2 separate regions of the Homo sapiens genome follow, and region 2 is linked to region 1. A link means that fine-mapping ties the variant in region 1 to the expression of a gene that starts in the linked region. Tissue or cell type: gastroesophageal junction. Region 1 holds a variant in brackets; the other region holds the start of a gene. All regions are shown on one strand. Distances are between the middles of the regions.

Evidence for each region. PIP is the estimated chance that this variant, and not a neighbour inherited with it, causes the effect.
Region 2: VCF2 starts here. The variant in region 1 is fine-mapped to the expression of VCF2 in gastroesophageal junction (GTEx, PIP 0.98).

What each region holds. Positions count from the first base shown.
Region 1 is chrX:55,133,511-55,141,664 of GRCh38, forward strand. It overlaps the pseudogene LOC100421179. Among named protein-coding and RNA genes, the nearest start is that of VCF2, 24 kb to the right of the region's middle. The variant A/C (reference allele first, on the strand shown) is at 3,920.
Region 2 is chrX:55,156,927-55,165,080 of GRCh38, forward strand. VCF2 (VCP nuclear cofactor family member 2) reads right to left here and starts at 4,259. Exons shown (of 3, transcript NM_001166701.4): 1 at 4,211-4,259; 2 at 2,203-2,302. The coding sequence starts at 4,230. RefSeq lists enhancers at 3,922-4,221, 4,047-4,547, 4,548-5,048.

The sequences.
Region 1 (8,154 bases):
TAGTTCATGGCCTATAGACACTCTCCAAACATTTCTTGGATAGGTATGTGGATGGAATCATAGTTTCATGCATCCATAGACAGAGAGATGGACAGACAAATGAATGGATGGATTGAGGCAAGATTATGCAGTGTCAGTGGTGTCACATTTATGGTATAAAAGTCTTTGTGCAATTTGCAAAATAAAGGGAAGCCTGATATCTTTCAGTTCATGTTTTGATGTAAGTGTTTCTGGAAGAAAGAGGGTAATGGGAAATACAGCTGAAGGGGTTCACTGGGGCCAGGAAAGCCTTGACCACCAAGTAAGATATAAAGTAGTGGGGCCCTTTTAGAACTGACCAAAAATATGACCCAAAAGGCATCTGCATCAGGTTAATCTGGCAGCAAAGAAAGGAAAGACAAGAGGAGACAGAGAAAGAAAACCACCCCTAGAATATTATTGGATTAATCTAAACGTGAGATGATTGTGATCTAAATTTGAGACCTGGAAGTAGTAACTGAAAAATTATAGGGAAGAGACATCCAAGGAACAATTGGAAGGTCAAGGAGGGCCTAGAATATCTAGGGACATGGTAGTGGGATGCATTGAGATATGAAGGAATGTAAGCACATTTTGGGTAGTCTTGATGAATTTTGATTTAGTTATACTGATAATGAGTTGACAGAGAAACTTACTGGAGCAAATGTTCAGCATGGAGAAGGGAATGCATATCTGGAATTTAAGGCAGTGGTGAGGACAACAATAGACATCTAGTAGTCATGTGCTTAGAAGTAATGTTTGAGGAAAGAGAATCCTGAGGCAGAGAGGATAGACTAAAATGAGTAGAGGCTTAAGTACTGAATTCAAGAAATATTTGATAGGGTGTGTGTCTTAGTTTGGCTGCCTGCTATAACAAAGTACCATAGGCTGGTGGCTTATAAACAATAGAAACATATTTCTCACAGTTCTGGAGGCTGTAAGTCTGAGATCAGGGTTCTATGAGGCCCCCCTTAGACTTGCAGACTGCTGGCTTCTTGCTGTACTCCTAGGTGGTGGATAGCTCTCTGACTTCTTATAAGGGCTTTAATTTTGTTCATGAGGGCTCTACTCTCATGACCTAAGCACTTCCTAAAGGCCCCACCTCCTAATACCATCACATTGGGATCAGAGTTTCAATACATGAATTTTGAGGGGACACAAACATTCAGCCCATTGCAGTGGGGGTGTGGCAAAGAGGAACAGCTTGGAAAGAATTCCATTGTGCACTCAAAGAGACAAGAGAAAAAGTAGTAAGGCAGAAGATCAGAGAAGGGAAGGGAAGGAGAAAGCTTCCAGGAGTGGTGGTGAATAGGGCTCCATGCTGTTGAGAACTGAAAGAAAAAAAACTGAGAAAAGGCATCTACCATATTTGTTAACTAGCATGTGAGATGACAAAATTAAGCTTGCTTCTCCATGGGAGTGAAGGAAGGTGCTATCAAGCTGTAGAAAATAAATAGTGGAATTTTATAGCACTGCTGGTCAGCTCTCATTCAATCATACTGACCTTCCACACTGAGAATTAGGAAACTTAATGCAAAGTCATCACACAAAAATAGCTCCAAATTGCTCGCCAAAGATGCAGAGAAATGGCATTGCTTTTCTTTCTTCTGACATCATTCTTTGCCCTTCCATACAGCCATGAAACAAGTTCCATAGCATAGCTGGGCCACCAGATCAAGTTACAATCAGGAATTCTTGAAAACAATCTGAAACTGGATGGTTTCTTCTCATTATCTCCATACCTGTTGTGCTGCCAACTTTCACAGCCTGCTCTTTCTATGTTCTAGTTCATTATGATCCTTTCCTTTCCACTCGCATTCCATATGCTCATCCAGCAGGTGGCAGGAGCCATCCACTTTCAGGAGTGGGTGTAGCTTAAAGATTTCTGATGACAGTCACTCTTTAGCACAATAGTTCTGTGGTATGTGTCTTTTCTGACATACCAAGGTCTTTCTCCCATGACCTTCATCATACCCTACCCTACCATTGTCATCCAGCACATCCTTTTATTGGTCCTCTATAGGGGAGCAATTTTGAATGAAAGCAAGTTACTTCTCAAATGCTGAGCCATGTCTCTGACCAAGTTGCAGTTCAGGCCCTATCTTCTATCATGCTGATAGAAGAGAGTCCTCCTTGCTAAGTCATATCAGACTTACCGTTGGCCAGAAAAGCAGTCATTCAATTAATTCCCAACCAGCCCCATAATGAGTCTGGCCTGCCTTCAGACTTAGCTCCTTAAACATGGGACAGGAAAGGGTAAACTGAAGGGGAACGAAGGATCCAGAGCACTTTCTGTTTTTAGCTTACCTAGGGAAATTGTTAGATGAAGATAATTTCCTCCTATAGGCTTAGGTATCAAGACTCAGCTTTGTTCACTAGATTAATTGGTGGCCACCACTTTGAATCAACCTCTTTTCAACACTTTGCCAAAAGGCCTGCTTCCAGATCCATCCCTGTTGTGAGTTGCTCTGATCCATTCTGGAGGCCATCCTACGGGTGGGAGCCCTAACTCACCTTTCTTTTCTGGTTCATTCAATCGGTATTTATTGTGTGTTCTGGAAATATAGCAATGAACCAGACACATATGGATCCTTTTTCACAGAGGTTTTAGTCTGGAGGGGAGGCAGATGTTTCACTCATAAATAAGTATCTATATCAATATTGGTGATTGCCATAAAACAAAATTATAATCTGCCTTAGAAACATATAACAGAGAGACATCACCAAGCCTAGATGGTCCGAGAAGGCTTTCCTGTGGAAGTGACATTTGAACTTCAACTTGAAGGATGAATAGGAGTTATACAGGTGAATAAGACAAGGGAGGAAATTCCAGGCAAAAGGAAGGGCGTGTTTAAAGGCCTGAGTCAAGAAAGATGTTGGTATATTTGAGGATGTGAAAGAGTCAATGAGGTTGAGAATTGTGCATTGAGAGAAATAGTGACATGAGATGAGCCTGGAGAAATAGAGATTGAACTTGGCTATATCAAGCAAAGCTTTGTGGGCTAGAGTAAGGGTCTTGCACACTGTCCTAAAAGGAATGGGTAGCCTTCCCTAGTCATCCAGGCCCTTAGAGATCCCTCACTATATATGCCCAGACATCTTATTCTTGTATTTTGCAGCATCTATCACAATTAAACAAATATTTTCACAGTTGTCCTTAATTACACAGTCCATTGTAGGGTTTGGAGAAGGAGAGTAACATAATAAAAACTACAATTTTAACTCAAATTTTAATTTAAAAGTCAAAGTTTAATTTTACATTCATGTGATAGTGGATCACAGTGGGGCTGCAGTAGATGTTGGGAGGTCACAACAAAGCTCTCACCTTAATCCACGTGAGAAATGATCATGGATTGGATTATTGTTAGCAGTGAAGAAGATGAAGCTAACTGAACCACTTTTAGGTTTAGTTCTGAGGAGAGGATTTAGTGATGGCTGTGGAGGGTGTGGGAAAGAGGTGCCAGAGTTAATGAGGAAACTGTATAGTCAGAAGGATAAGATGATAAGATTACATGTGAAAATGTCAAGTTTGAGAGGACTGAGACCCTCAAATAGAGAAGAGGAACGGGCTAGGGGATTTTATGGGTCTGGAAGAGAGAGGTGAGAGCTCAGGCTTGGCAATACACATTTGGATTCTCTCAGTATAGGAATATTACTTGGGGCCGTGAAACTGAATGACATCCCTGATGAGAAGAAAAGAGGACCAAGGACTGTGCCCTGGAGAACTCCAAAATTCAAAGATCAGATGGAGGATTTGGCTATATTGACTGAGAAGAAAAAGGAATTGGCAAGAGGAAAACAAATAGAATGGGATGACAAAGCCATGTAATCATTTAGTGAGAGAGATGCAGTGAGCATAGTCTAATTCCAGGCTTCTTTTGCCCTTAAACTAGGATGCCAC[A/C]TTCCGATATCTGTTTCCTCAATACCCTTACTTATAACAATATGCCCCTCTCTCAAAAGCTGAATATTGACAAAGTTGTCATTGTGTTAGATAATAGAAGTGCCAGGGATCTTAAAAGAGTCTCTGTGTTACACAACTCCAGAAGGCACCGTTCACATAGAATGCAATGTGAATGGGGCTTCCTAGGGCCTTAAGGCCCAGTGCAGCTCCATTCTTGAGGTGTTGTTTGTCCTCAGCAAATTTGTTTACTCCAAGAGCTGTGTTCTGGAAAAATCAGTCTTAGAAATTAACCTGAATCTATACTCTTGAGCTGAAAGAGAATAGGGCTCACTTAGTTGTTTGGGAATAAGCCCACATCCATTACTATTGGCCTCTTTTTTCTCTACCAAAACCATTCTATCCTTCTCAGTGTGGAATGGGGGAATTCTGGCTGCTAGGAAAAAGATTGACTTGAGATATCCTTGAAAGAATTATCTGAGAATATTCCTCTCATACTCTTTCAGGTTCTGACGAAAGGACGCCAAGACTCATTCTCCAGTAGCTCTATTCAAAGAGCTCCAGGTTTTATCTTTGCAGGTTCTTGACATCAGGGCCAGCAATTCTACTTCAAATAAACAGATCCAAATAAGCAGGTGAAGCATATCTTTCTTCCTCCAGTTTGAGAATCCTCAAGACCTGCCTTCTAATGCTACCTGGGCCAATACGACAAGGCAGGGTCTATTTGCCAATAGTGGCCTCTCCACTAATGCTCAGCTGTTAGTCCTTGTGAGCAGAGCTTCCCTTCAACCCTAGATTTTAAGTTGAAGGTTAAACTGGATAACTTTCTGGCTTACTTTCCCTCTGATGACTCCTCCCAACCCAAGAAGGTCCTCACTATGCAGGTTAAAAACTCTGCCATTGACAGATTTATAGAGACTGGGACTGTGCAGGAAATGCTGCTCCAGAATCACTCCCTAGCATTCATCAAGCACATCTTGTACTGCAGGTGGGCAGAGCTGCAAAGCATTGAAGAGATTATGCAAGGATGACAAGATGTCCACAACCATATTTAAGTACACATAGTTCTATCCATGGTCAGATGCTGTCAATCACTGGGGAAACAGTGTTCCCATCTGAAACGGTTTGGCTGTGTCCCCACCCAAATCTCATCTTGAATTGTAATCCTCATAATCCCCATGTTAAGGGAGGGACCCAGTGGGAGGTGATTTGATCATGGGAGTGGTCCCCCCATGATGTTCTCATAATAGTGAGTGGGTTCTCACGAGATCTGATGGTTTTATAAGTGTTTGACATTTCCTCCTTCACACACTCACACTCTCCTGTTGCCTTATGAAGAAGATGCCTGCTTCCTCTTCTGTCACGACTGTAAGTTCCATGAGGCCTACTCAGCCATGTGGAACTGTGAGTCAATTAAACCTCTTTCCTTTATAAATTACCCAGTCTCAGGTACTTCTTTATAGCAGTGTGAGAATGGACTAAAAGAGGAATTGGTACTGCGGAGAGTGGGGCCCTGTTATCAAGATACCTGAAAATGTGGAAGCAACTTTGGAACTGCATAACAGGCAGAGGCTGGAACAGTTTGGAGGGCTCAGAGAGAAGACAGAAAGATGTGGGAAAGTTTGGAACTTCCTAGAGACTTGTTGAATGCTTTTGACCAAAATTCTCATAATGATTTGGACAATGAAGTCCAGGCTGAAGTAGTCTCAGATGGAGATGAGGAACTCAATGGGAACTGGAGCAAAGGTCAATCTTGCTATGCTTTAGCAAAGAGGCTGGTGGCATGTTGCTCCTGCCCTAGAGATCTGTGGAACTTTGAACTTGAGAGAGTTGATATGAAATTGGAACTTATGTTTAAAAGGGAAGCAGAGCCTAAATGTTTGGAAAATTTGCAGCCTGACGATGTGATAGAAAATTAAAAACCATTTTCTGGGGAGAAATTCAAGCCAGCTGCAGAAGTTTGCATAAGTAATGAGGAACCAAATGTTAATTGCCAAGACAACGGGGAAAATGTCTCCAGGGCATTTCAGACATCTTGGCAGCAGCACCTCCCATCACAGGCCTGAAGGCCTAGCAGGGAAAAATGGCTTCATGGGCCAGTCCCAGGGTCCCCCTGCTCTGTGCAGCCTCAGAACTTGGTGCCCTGTGTCCTAGCTACTCCAGCTCCAGTTGTGGCTACAAGGGGCCAAGGTACATCTCAGGCTGTTGCTTCAGAGGGTGCAAGCCCCAAGCCTTGGTGGCTTCCACATGGTGTTGGGCCTGCAGGTGCATGGAAGTCCAGAATTGTGGTTTGGGAACCTCCACCTAGATTTCAGAGGATGTATGGAAATGCCTGGATGTCCAGGGAGAAGTTTGCTGCAGGGGTGAAGCCCTCATGGAGGACCTCTGCTGGGGCAGTGCGAAGGCTAAATGAGGGGCTGGAGCCCCCACACAGAGTCCCCACTGGGGCACTGACTAGTGGAGCTATGAGAAGAGAGTCACCATCTTCCAGACCCCACAATGGTAGATGTACTGACAGCTTGCATAGTACACCTGGAAAAGCCACAGACACTCAATGCCAGCTGTGAAAGCAGCCAGGGCAGGGGGCTGTATCCTGCAAAGCCACAGGGGCAGAGCTGCCCAAGGCCATGGGAGCCCATCCTTTGCATCGGTGTGCCCTGGATGTGAGACATGGAGTCAAGGGAGATTATTTTGGAACTTTAAGATTTAATGACTGCCTCACTGGATTTTAGACTTGCATGGGGCCTGTAGCCCCTTTGTTTTGGCCAATTTCTCCCACTCAGAATGGAAGTATTTATTCAATGCCTGTGCTCCCATTGTATCTTGGAAATAACTAACTTGCTTTTAATTTTACAGGCTCCTAGGTGGAAGGGACTTGCCTTGTCTCAGATGAAACTTTGGACTTTTGGGTTAATGCTGAAATGAGTTAGGACTTTGGGGGACTGCTGGGAACAAAAGATTGTGTTTTGAAATGTGAGGACAGGAGTGGTGACTCACGCCTGTAATCCCAGCCAAGGCAGGCAGATCACTTGAGGTTAGGAGTTTGAGACCAGTCTGGCCAACATGGTAAAACCCTGTCTCTACTAAAAATACAAAAATGAGCCAGGTGTGGTGTTGGGTGCCTGTAGTCTCAGCTACTGAGGAGACTGAGGCAGGAGACTTGCTTTAACCCGGGAGGTGGAGGTTGCAGTGAGCCGAGATTGTGCCACTGCACTCCAGGCCGGGTGACAGAGTGAGACTGTCTCATAACAAGAAAAAAAAAAAAAGAAAAAGAAAAAGAAAAAAAAAAAAAGAAATGTGAGGACATGAGATTTGGGAGGGGCCAGGGCGGAAAGATATGGTTTGGTTTTATCCCCACCCAAATCTCACCTTTAACTGTAATCCCAATAATCCCCATGTGTTGAGAGAGGGACCCGGTGGGAGGTGATTGGATCATGGGGGCAGTTTCCCTCATGCTGTTCTCATGATAGTGAATGAATTATGAGATCTGATGGTTTTATGAGTGTTTGACATTTCCTCCTTCACACACTCATATTCCCTCCTGCTGTTCTCATGATAGTGAATGAATTATGAGATCTGATGGTTTTATGAGTGTTTGACATTTCCTCCTTCACACAATCACATTCCCTCCTGCTGCTTTGTGGAGAAGGTGTCTGCTTCCCCTTCTGCCATTCCCTTTCTGCCATTCCCCTTCTTCCATGATTGTAAGTTTCCTGAGGCCTCCCCAGCCATGCAGAACTGTGAGTCAATTAAACCTCTTTCCTTTATAAATTACCCAGTTTTGGGTATTTCTTTTCTTTTCTTTTTTTTTTGAGATGGAGTCTTGCTCTGTCACCCAGGCTGGAGTGCAGTGGTGCAATCTCGGCTCACTGCAAGCTCCGCCTCCTGGGTTCACACCATTCTCCTGCCCCAGGCGCCCGCCACCATGCCTGGCTAATTTTTTTGTATTTTTTAGTAGAGACGGGGTTTCACTGTGTTAGCCAGGATGGTCTCAATCTCCTGACCTCGTGATCCGCCCGCCTCGGCCTCCCAAAGTGCTGGGATTACAGGCGTGAGCCACCGTGCCCGGCCAGTCTTGGGTATTTCTTTACATTAGTGCAAGAACAAACTAATACACCATCTAAAGAAATGCATTTGGGGCAACTCAGGGAGCTCAGAGAAACCACAGAAGATATGAAAAAAAGAACCAGGGCCAATGAAACATGGAAGAAATTGATTCTACTTAATCCAAGTGACAG
Region 2 (8,154 bases), 23 kb after region 1:
ATATGAAAGTGCTTGGGATGTTTAGTATGCTCCATGAACACGGCTTCTTAAAATGTACAAAATAGATTAGGCCATCTTTGAAAAAGCTTGTTCCTCCATTTTGAATGTATCTTTAAGTAGAAGCTAATTTCAGAAGGTTCCCATTTTGCCATAGGGTTTAAAACCACATCTGATGACCATTACATTGTTCAACAACGATTTCATCCCCAAAAATGTTTCCCAAAGTAGTTCTGTCTCTTAGAATTTATGTGATCAAACGTGATGAGAATGACTCCAAACTACTAAGAACCTAAGAGAAAATGTTCTTCAAAAAATTTCACCAAAGCCGGGGCGTGGTGGCTGATGCCTGTAATCCCAGCACTTTGGGAGGCCGAGGCGGGCGGATCACTTGAGGCCAGGAGTTCGAGAACAGCCCGGCCAACATGGAAAAACCCCACCTCTACTAAAAATACGAAAACTAGCCGGCCATGGTGGTGCATGCCTGTAATCCCAGCTATTCCGGAGGCTGAAGCACCAGAATCGCTTGAACCCGGGAGGTGGGGGTGCAGTGAGCCGAGATCGTGCCACTGCACCTCCAGCCTGGGTGACCCAGTGAGACTGTCTCAAAAAAACAAAAATGCCCCAGTTGTCATCTGAATTGATATTACTTAAAATGATAACCTGACAAGGGGAGATTTCCTATCAGCTGAAAAATAACAGGATTCATAGACCTCTAATTTTAAATGTATTTGGGGCCTCCTAGTTCTGTTTTTCTCTCATTTGTCTTATTTCTGCTGCCCCCTTGGAATTGTAGCATTAGGGCACAAAATCTTTTCCTACTCTATACAGTAGGGAAGAGAAAAAGGCAGAGATCTGCTCCAGATAAGCCACTTGTGTGTATATCTACATAATATTCCACTCTTAATTTCTTGTACTACTCAGTAATCTGAAAGGTAAAATGAATGTTCCTGGCAAGTTAGACACACTTGTACAGAAATGTTCGGCTCTTTGTGTTTGTACTTTCTGTAAGTCTTATACCTATGTACTAGGGTTTTTACAGGGAAAGTGGTGGTATAATTTGTAAGATGTATGGTTGAAAGAAAATATTCCTATATGTGCAAACATATCCAACAAAAATCCCCCAGCACCTAAGAGAACAAATTATATAAGTTAAATCTAGTTATGTTTTACCCATCCAAGTAGCTGCCCACAATCTTGGATAATCATACCTGTGTATAGGTAGGTACCAAGAAGAGGACCTGGATTGATAATCTTTTCTCATCTTGCTCAAAAGAGGGCAAGGTGAGCCATACTTAGTTATTAACTAAGAGGATTAACTCAGAAAGACTTTATGAGGTTCCTTTAACACTCCACTAGTAATTATATCTCAATTAAAGCTATATTATGCTAATGAATACAAGTTATTAAAGTGAAGCACCTTGAAGTTAAAATTCAAGCTCCTTAGAATGGTGGTTACTAGAGGTTTAGAAGAGAGGAAGGGGGGATGAAAAGAAGTTGGCTAAGGGGTATAAAATACAGTTAGATAGAAGGAATAAGTTATAGAATTCAACAGTACAGTAGGAAAATTACAGTTAACAATAATTTATTGTATATTTCAAAATAGAAGAGAAGATTTATAAGTTCCCAACACAAAGAAAAGATGTATGTTTGAGGTGATGGGTAGCCCAATTACCCTGATTTGGTCATTACACATTATATACAGGTATCAAAATATCACATGTACCCCCAAAATATGTACAACTATTCTATATCAATAAAAAATTAAAAACTTCAAACTCTTTTTCCAGCACCATTAAAGTTTTGCAAAAATCATGAGACTGCCCCAAATTTTTCACTTTTTTTCACTGAGAAAGCAAGACTTGCCTTCCAGCTAATAACATATCACTATGTACTAGAAAATATGTTTTCCATATAAAAAGAAGGGAAGTAAGACTACTATTCCCTGCTCATATGAGGGGACAAAATTACAGGGGCTAATTCCTCCTGATTATGTTTAGCAAAGTTTTTCTGTGCTTCTTTTCCATTTTCTGTGAGATACTATATCATAATTTAAAGCTCCAGCTCAAAAGCCACTGTAATCAAGCAAGAAAACTTTTATGAAGGTTTCTTGGAATAATACATTTCTTTTCATTATGGAGCACAAATTGGATAATTTAGTGTAGGCAATGAATGAAATAGAGGCAATCTGACCATACTTGCTACCTCTGTATCTTGAGAATCCTGAAAGATAGGGTTTCTCTTATTCCTTTTGGGCTGGGTGGAATGATGGTTGCCCTCTTTACTGCCATTTCTTCTTCTTTTCCTGAAAATAAATTGTAAAGAGAGAGTTGTTACATGAAACAACTGATCTTTTGGATGCTTAAATTGTAAAGCCGTGACAACATACATATATGAGAACTTGTCTGAAAAAATGTCACTATCTGCTATCCCAAGATATAAAAGTCATATAAGTACTCCATTACCAGGCATGAAGATAAAAAAATGTAATACAAGAACTCTAAGTAAAGCCAAGCTGTGCATTTCATTTCTAGAAATAATTTTCATAACCTTAAATGATCCTTGAAAATAAAGAATATGAGGAATTTAATAGCTAAGTTTTCAAAATCTACCTAATTAGTTTCATTGTTTTGACTCCATGAAGTTACAATTCCAGGGTAAGTGATTTTTAACTCCTTCAATAAGATCGTAAGACATGTGTGTCTGCCAGTGTCTACTCTTAAGTTCTTATGCCAGTGGTGTAGCGACACTGAAGAGATATTTCTTGTATGCTGAATGTGGTTAGGCACTTACTGTTGCTATACCAGCTAATATTATGACATAGTTACTCCACTAGATTGTCACCATGAGATTGTGGCTGATTACTTCCTTGAAACATTCTTTTCTCAAAATTGTTTTCAATGATTGGTAAGATTACATCTTCAGTTTCAAGTTCCTTGTCAATAAGTAATCAGATTGCAGCGTTTGACATAGTTTTCACAGCACTCTATTATTAACCAGACATTTGCTTAGAGACTTACTTTTGAGTTTTTGGTACTCCTAAGAATGGCTGAGTTTACTCATTTTTATAATTTCATTACTCTTTAATCAATTCTCATCTCTAGGAGACTGAGTACTAGGAGACTCTAGGAGACTGAGTACTGAGTACAAAATGCCAAATAAAAAATCACGTAGAAAACTGCTCCTATATTACACTCCATTATGAAATGATTGATTATATATAAAGAAAAAATGACCGGGTGTAAATATTATTTTATTTCACAATGTTTATTGAGCATCCACTAAGTGCTAGGCACTCCTCCAGGTGCCAGGATAAAAGAGTGAAACAAACACATGCCACAGCTCTGCCTTCATTAGGGAGCATGGTGATGTTTGTCTTTGATCATGGTATTTTGAGTATTTGAGTATTTTGCGCTCAAGTTTTACTGAAACTTTCAACAGCTTACAATACGTTTGCATTGTTTTTAAAACAGAGTAATACTATGAAAATGATTTTTCAAAGTGTGAAGCTGAGTTTAAAAAGCGGAATGTTCATGAAACAATGTTAATCTCATTTTTTAAAATGCAACTTTACGAATGAAAAACATCTAAGGAAATTTATCACAGAATATGATTAATGGTCACGGCTGGGTGATCGGACTGTGGATAAGATTGGTTTCCTTTATTACGCTTTAACAGTCTAACCAAGTTTTCTACCATGAGATTCAGAGACGTTTGTAATGAAAGAATACATTGATAAAGGTCCATAGAACCCCAGTAACACGTGGAGAAAGATGACAAAACCAATCAGAGAAACAGAAATACCAGTTGCTAGGGTACCTAGCAGCCTCACCGAGGAAATGCCAATTTGAAAAACAGAATGCTATTGTCCACTGACTGAGTTTTCGCGAGGGACCACATCCCCACCTCACCCCCGCCTCCAGGGCTTGTAAGGCACTGACAACCAAAGAACCAGCATGTTCTTTCGGAGAAGGCTTCGCGGGATTTTTTTTCAAGCACGAAGGGCGGGGCACGAGGCAAGCAGGGCCGCGCCACCGGCCAACACTGTCACCTGCAGGTCATGAGAGCCGAGCGCCACCAACCCCGGAAGAAAATACATATCCGCTGCGTTTCCGCCCTGAGCCCCGAGATCTTGGCTGAGAAAGCAAAGCGTGATGACCGTGGGGACCAGAGCTCGGACTGGTACCGGCCGGAAAGGCCCCGACGAACTTACCGTACAGGGCAGCCTCCCATAGTCCTGCCCTCGGAACCATAGCAACCGCGCAGGAAGTTCCTGCGCCGCCGGAAAAACGCAGCCCGGAGGGCGGGGCTGGCCAAGGATTGACGGGCTCTGGGCCTGCGCATCGGAGCCCGGGGAGGTCGGCTCCTGTTTCCTCTGGGTCCGCCGCAGGCTCCCTTCCCTGCAGTTGGGAGCTGACGCCTGAGGGACGATCCGCTGAGGGTCAGGCTCTGCTGCGCGACTGCCCGAGCCGCCCCATGTTCGAGACCTGTGCCAATCCCATGGACATTCTCCTCCCACCCAGCCAGCCTCTGAACACGCTTCTCACGTGGCACACGCCCTGTCCTCGCAGCCCTCACACCGCTGATCCTCCTCGGCGACCTCAGCGCCCCCGGGGCTGACCAGGCCGTGGCCGGCGCCTCTCCGTCCTCGGGGGGGTCTCCTTCCCCCCACTTAAGTCTCTTCTGCCCGCGGTCATGCCCTGGGCCTCAGGAAAGACCGCGCCCCTCCACGATGTCCATTTCTTGCATCCCCCATTCTCATAACGGGCAGCACCCGATCGTGTCCTAACAGCTACCTCTTCCAGTGCCCCAGCATCCACAGCCTTTAGCCTCAAGGAGGCCTCCTCTCCACTAACCACAACCGCGTTCCTCACCATTCACCTTCCTTAGCCAGCTTACCCAAAGCTATTAACTCTCTCCTCCCTACTCTCCTGGCAGTCCCCCCGCCGCCAAGTAGACAAACAATGTACACCCTCCACAAGTGTACCTTCTCTGTCTAGTCTACTTACAAGATCCCTCCACAAGCACCAGCACCCAATTTTCTCATGATATTCACTGATATTCCCTTGAGAAAATAGAAGCAATCAGAGAAGAATTCACACCACTTCCCAACAGCAGTAGACCTGCACTTATAATCTTGGCTGCTTCCCTGGAGGAAGAGACAGGATCCTACTTGAGACCAGGCCCTTCACCTGGATCCTATGCCTTCCACCTTCTTAAGGGATCATCCTTTGCAGTTATGCTTTCTCCTGAATTATCATGTTCCTCTATCTGTATTTATTATCTAAAAAGTTGGCAAAGGGAGTGCTAGAGTTTAGGCTGATCCTGGTTCTTGCTGTTAAGTAGGTGATCTCACAGGGGGCTGCATTCCCTGAGGATGGAAGGGAAGATGTGGAAAGTGGCTGATTCAAGAACTAAAGATCATGCCATAAAGGAAGCCTAACCCAGCTAGGGGCTAGGTGACCCTGCAGCCGAGGCTGTGGAGTAGACAGCCCTGGACAGGGGACTTTTAGACTGCCATGTTTGTCGCTGCATTGTGCAATTTTAACAAGAATCCTGCTAAGTCAGTTTAGTTAGAATTTCCCATCATCAATATCTCAGTTAGGTTCCTCATCCCCCAGGTGATGTCTAGTCACCCTGGCCCACCTTCACCAACAATCCTGTTAGTTCAATTTAGCCACAATACCCCCTTACCCGTGGTGTTTCCTCTTAGTAATTTTCCGTCCATTGCTCCCCACCCTGCTCCTTGGCTATAAATTTCCACTTTTCGTTGTTGTATTTGGAGTGGAACCCAGTTTCTCTCCCTTCACTGCAAAACCCCATAGCAGTGGTCCCTACACCTATCTTGATGGTCCTGAATGAAGTCTGCCTTACCGTTCTTTAACAAATGCCATGAATAATTTTTTTTCCTTAACACCCTTCACTTGGATCCCATGCCCTTCCACATTCTCAAGGAACAAGCTTTTGTAATGATCATTCCTTTTACTTGAATCACCATGTTCTCCATGTCTATCGGATCATGCTATCGTCTACAAAGTGGGCAAATAGATGGTTAGAAATGAGGGATTTTGCTTTCAAGAGCTGATCTTGGTTATTGCTGTGTTGTAGGTGAGACCCCAAGGGGCTGCATTCTCTGAGGAAGGTGGAGGGGTTGGAGGGTATGGAAAGTGGCTGATTCAAGAGCCAGGGGTGCTACCATGGGGCAAGCTTAAGCCAGATAAGGACTAGGTTACCTTGCAGCTGAGGCTGTGGAGTGGACAACCCTGGCCAGGGGCTGAAGGGAGGATGAAGCCCAGATTCAGAGGGGTCTGCAGAAGCTAGCACACATGGGCTGAGGCTGAGTCAGCCAGGGAGTACCAGATTCTGACCAAGATGAGAGAGACAAAAATGCAAGTTACACCAGCCACAGACATACGTGAGCAAATCAGCATCACCAGCAGGATTTGGGAGATAAGTTAGCCTTCCTTCAGAAACCACTGAGGACACTGCAATCAACATGAGACTCCTAAGCAATGCAGACCATGTATTAGGCCATCTTGCATTGCTGTAAAGAAATACCTGGAGTCTGGGTAATTTATAAAGAAAAGAGGTTTGAATTAGCTCATGGTTCTGCAGGCTGTACAGAAAGCATGGCGCCGGATTTGTCAGAGGCGTTCGAACCAGAGCAATTCTATCTTGAAAAAATAGGAAAAATCTAGGAAAAAGGAGGCTGGGATTTGCTTGGCTGCATTCTCAGAAAATTAGGTATTTCTAGCCTCTAGATGTTTTTACTGAACAGACCCAGACTTAGGAGTGTCGTGATATCCCAATATCTTGAGAACAGAAGCATTCCTAATTTTGCTTTAAAGATCATAATATCAATTCTTGCAAGATATAGTAATTAAGAAAATTAATCCTTTATCACAAACCCTTGTAGCAGAGCACATCTCCCCATAATCTTTTTTATCCTGTATATAAACGAGTATTGTACCTAGGGTGGATGCATTCCTTTTCTTACTTTTGGGAATATCCTACTCTGTCTGTAGAGTAGCTGTACTTTCACCACTTTACTTTCTTAATAAATTTGCTTTTGCTTTGCACTGTGGACTCACCTTGAATTCTTTCTTGGGCGAGATCCAGGAACCCTCTCTTGGGATCTGGATCGGGACCCCTTTCTGGTAACAGCTTCTGGGGAGGCCTCAGGAAGCTTTTGCTCATGGTAAAAGGTGAAGCAGGAGCAAGCACTTCACGTGGCAAAAGCAGGAGCAAGAGAGAGAGAGAGTTGGAGGAGGGGAGGGAGGCGCCACACACTTTTAAATGACCAGATCTCATGATTATTATGTAATGTCCGATTTTGTCCCTTGTAATAATCTCCACTATAAAGAGTGCTTTGTGAGGTATTAATTTGACACCTTGAGTTTTTATGTGGTTCATGTTTGCAGGGTATATCTTCTTCCATCCTTTACTTGTAACTTGTTTATTTTTAAAGTGAGGTTCTCTTTTTCCCAAGATACAGATTAGCGATAAATATATTGTGAAAATCAAGATCTTCTTGCAGCCGTGAAACGGTAACAGTAAAAACACCAAAAAATCAGATGTAGAAGTTAATATGGAACTGAAGTGTTATGCAGAAATCCACAGAATAATTTGTTAGGTTCCTCAAAAGAACCTCAATCAAATTTACTGACAGCCTTTATAGAAAGATAACTTGAAACTAAAGTGATACATTTATATGAAAAATATTACTTTATCACCCCATTTTCTGCAGTAGGCTTTTAGATGAAATTTCATTTCACAAAAGTGTTCTGTTGCTAAAAATATTTTGAAAATGGCTGTATAGGATAATGTTTCAGAGGTCTCTCAGCTTAGAAATTTTGGGATTCAAATATCCTTCTCTACATTGAATGGAAAAAGTGAAAAGAGAACAATATCATGGGGGAGGGAAATGTTGGTCTACTGTATTTTTCTTTTCTTTTTCTTCCTAAACTAACCGGTCTGTGTTGGTTCTCAGCTGTGCTGTTAATCCAGGTAAAAGATGCCCTTCAGGAGAATACATGGATTCATTGGGCCCCAGGGAAGTTTTGAATTGCTCAGAAACAACAGCCAGAATAACTTTTGAAAGGCTGTAAATGGAGATGATTGAGATCTTCTGATATGGTTTGGTGGTGTCCCCACCCT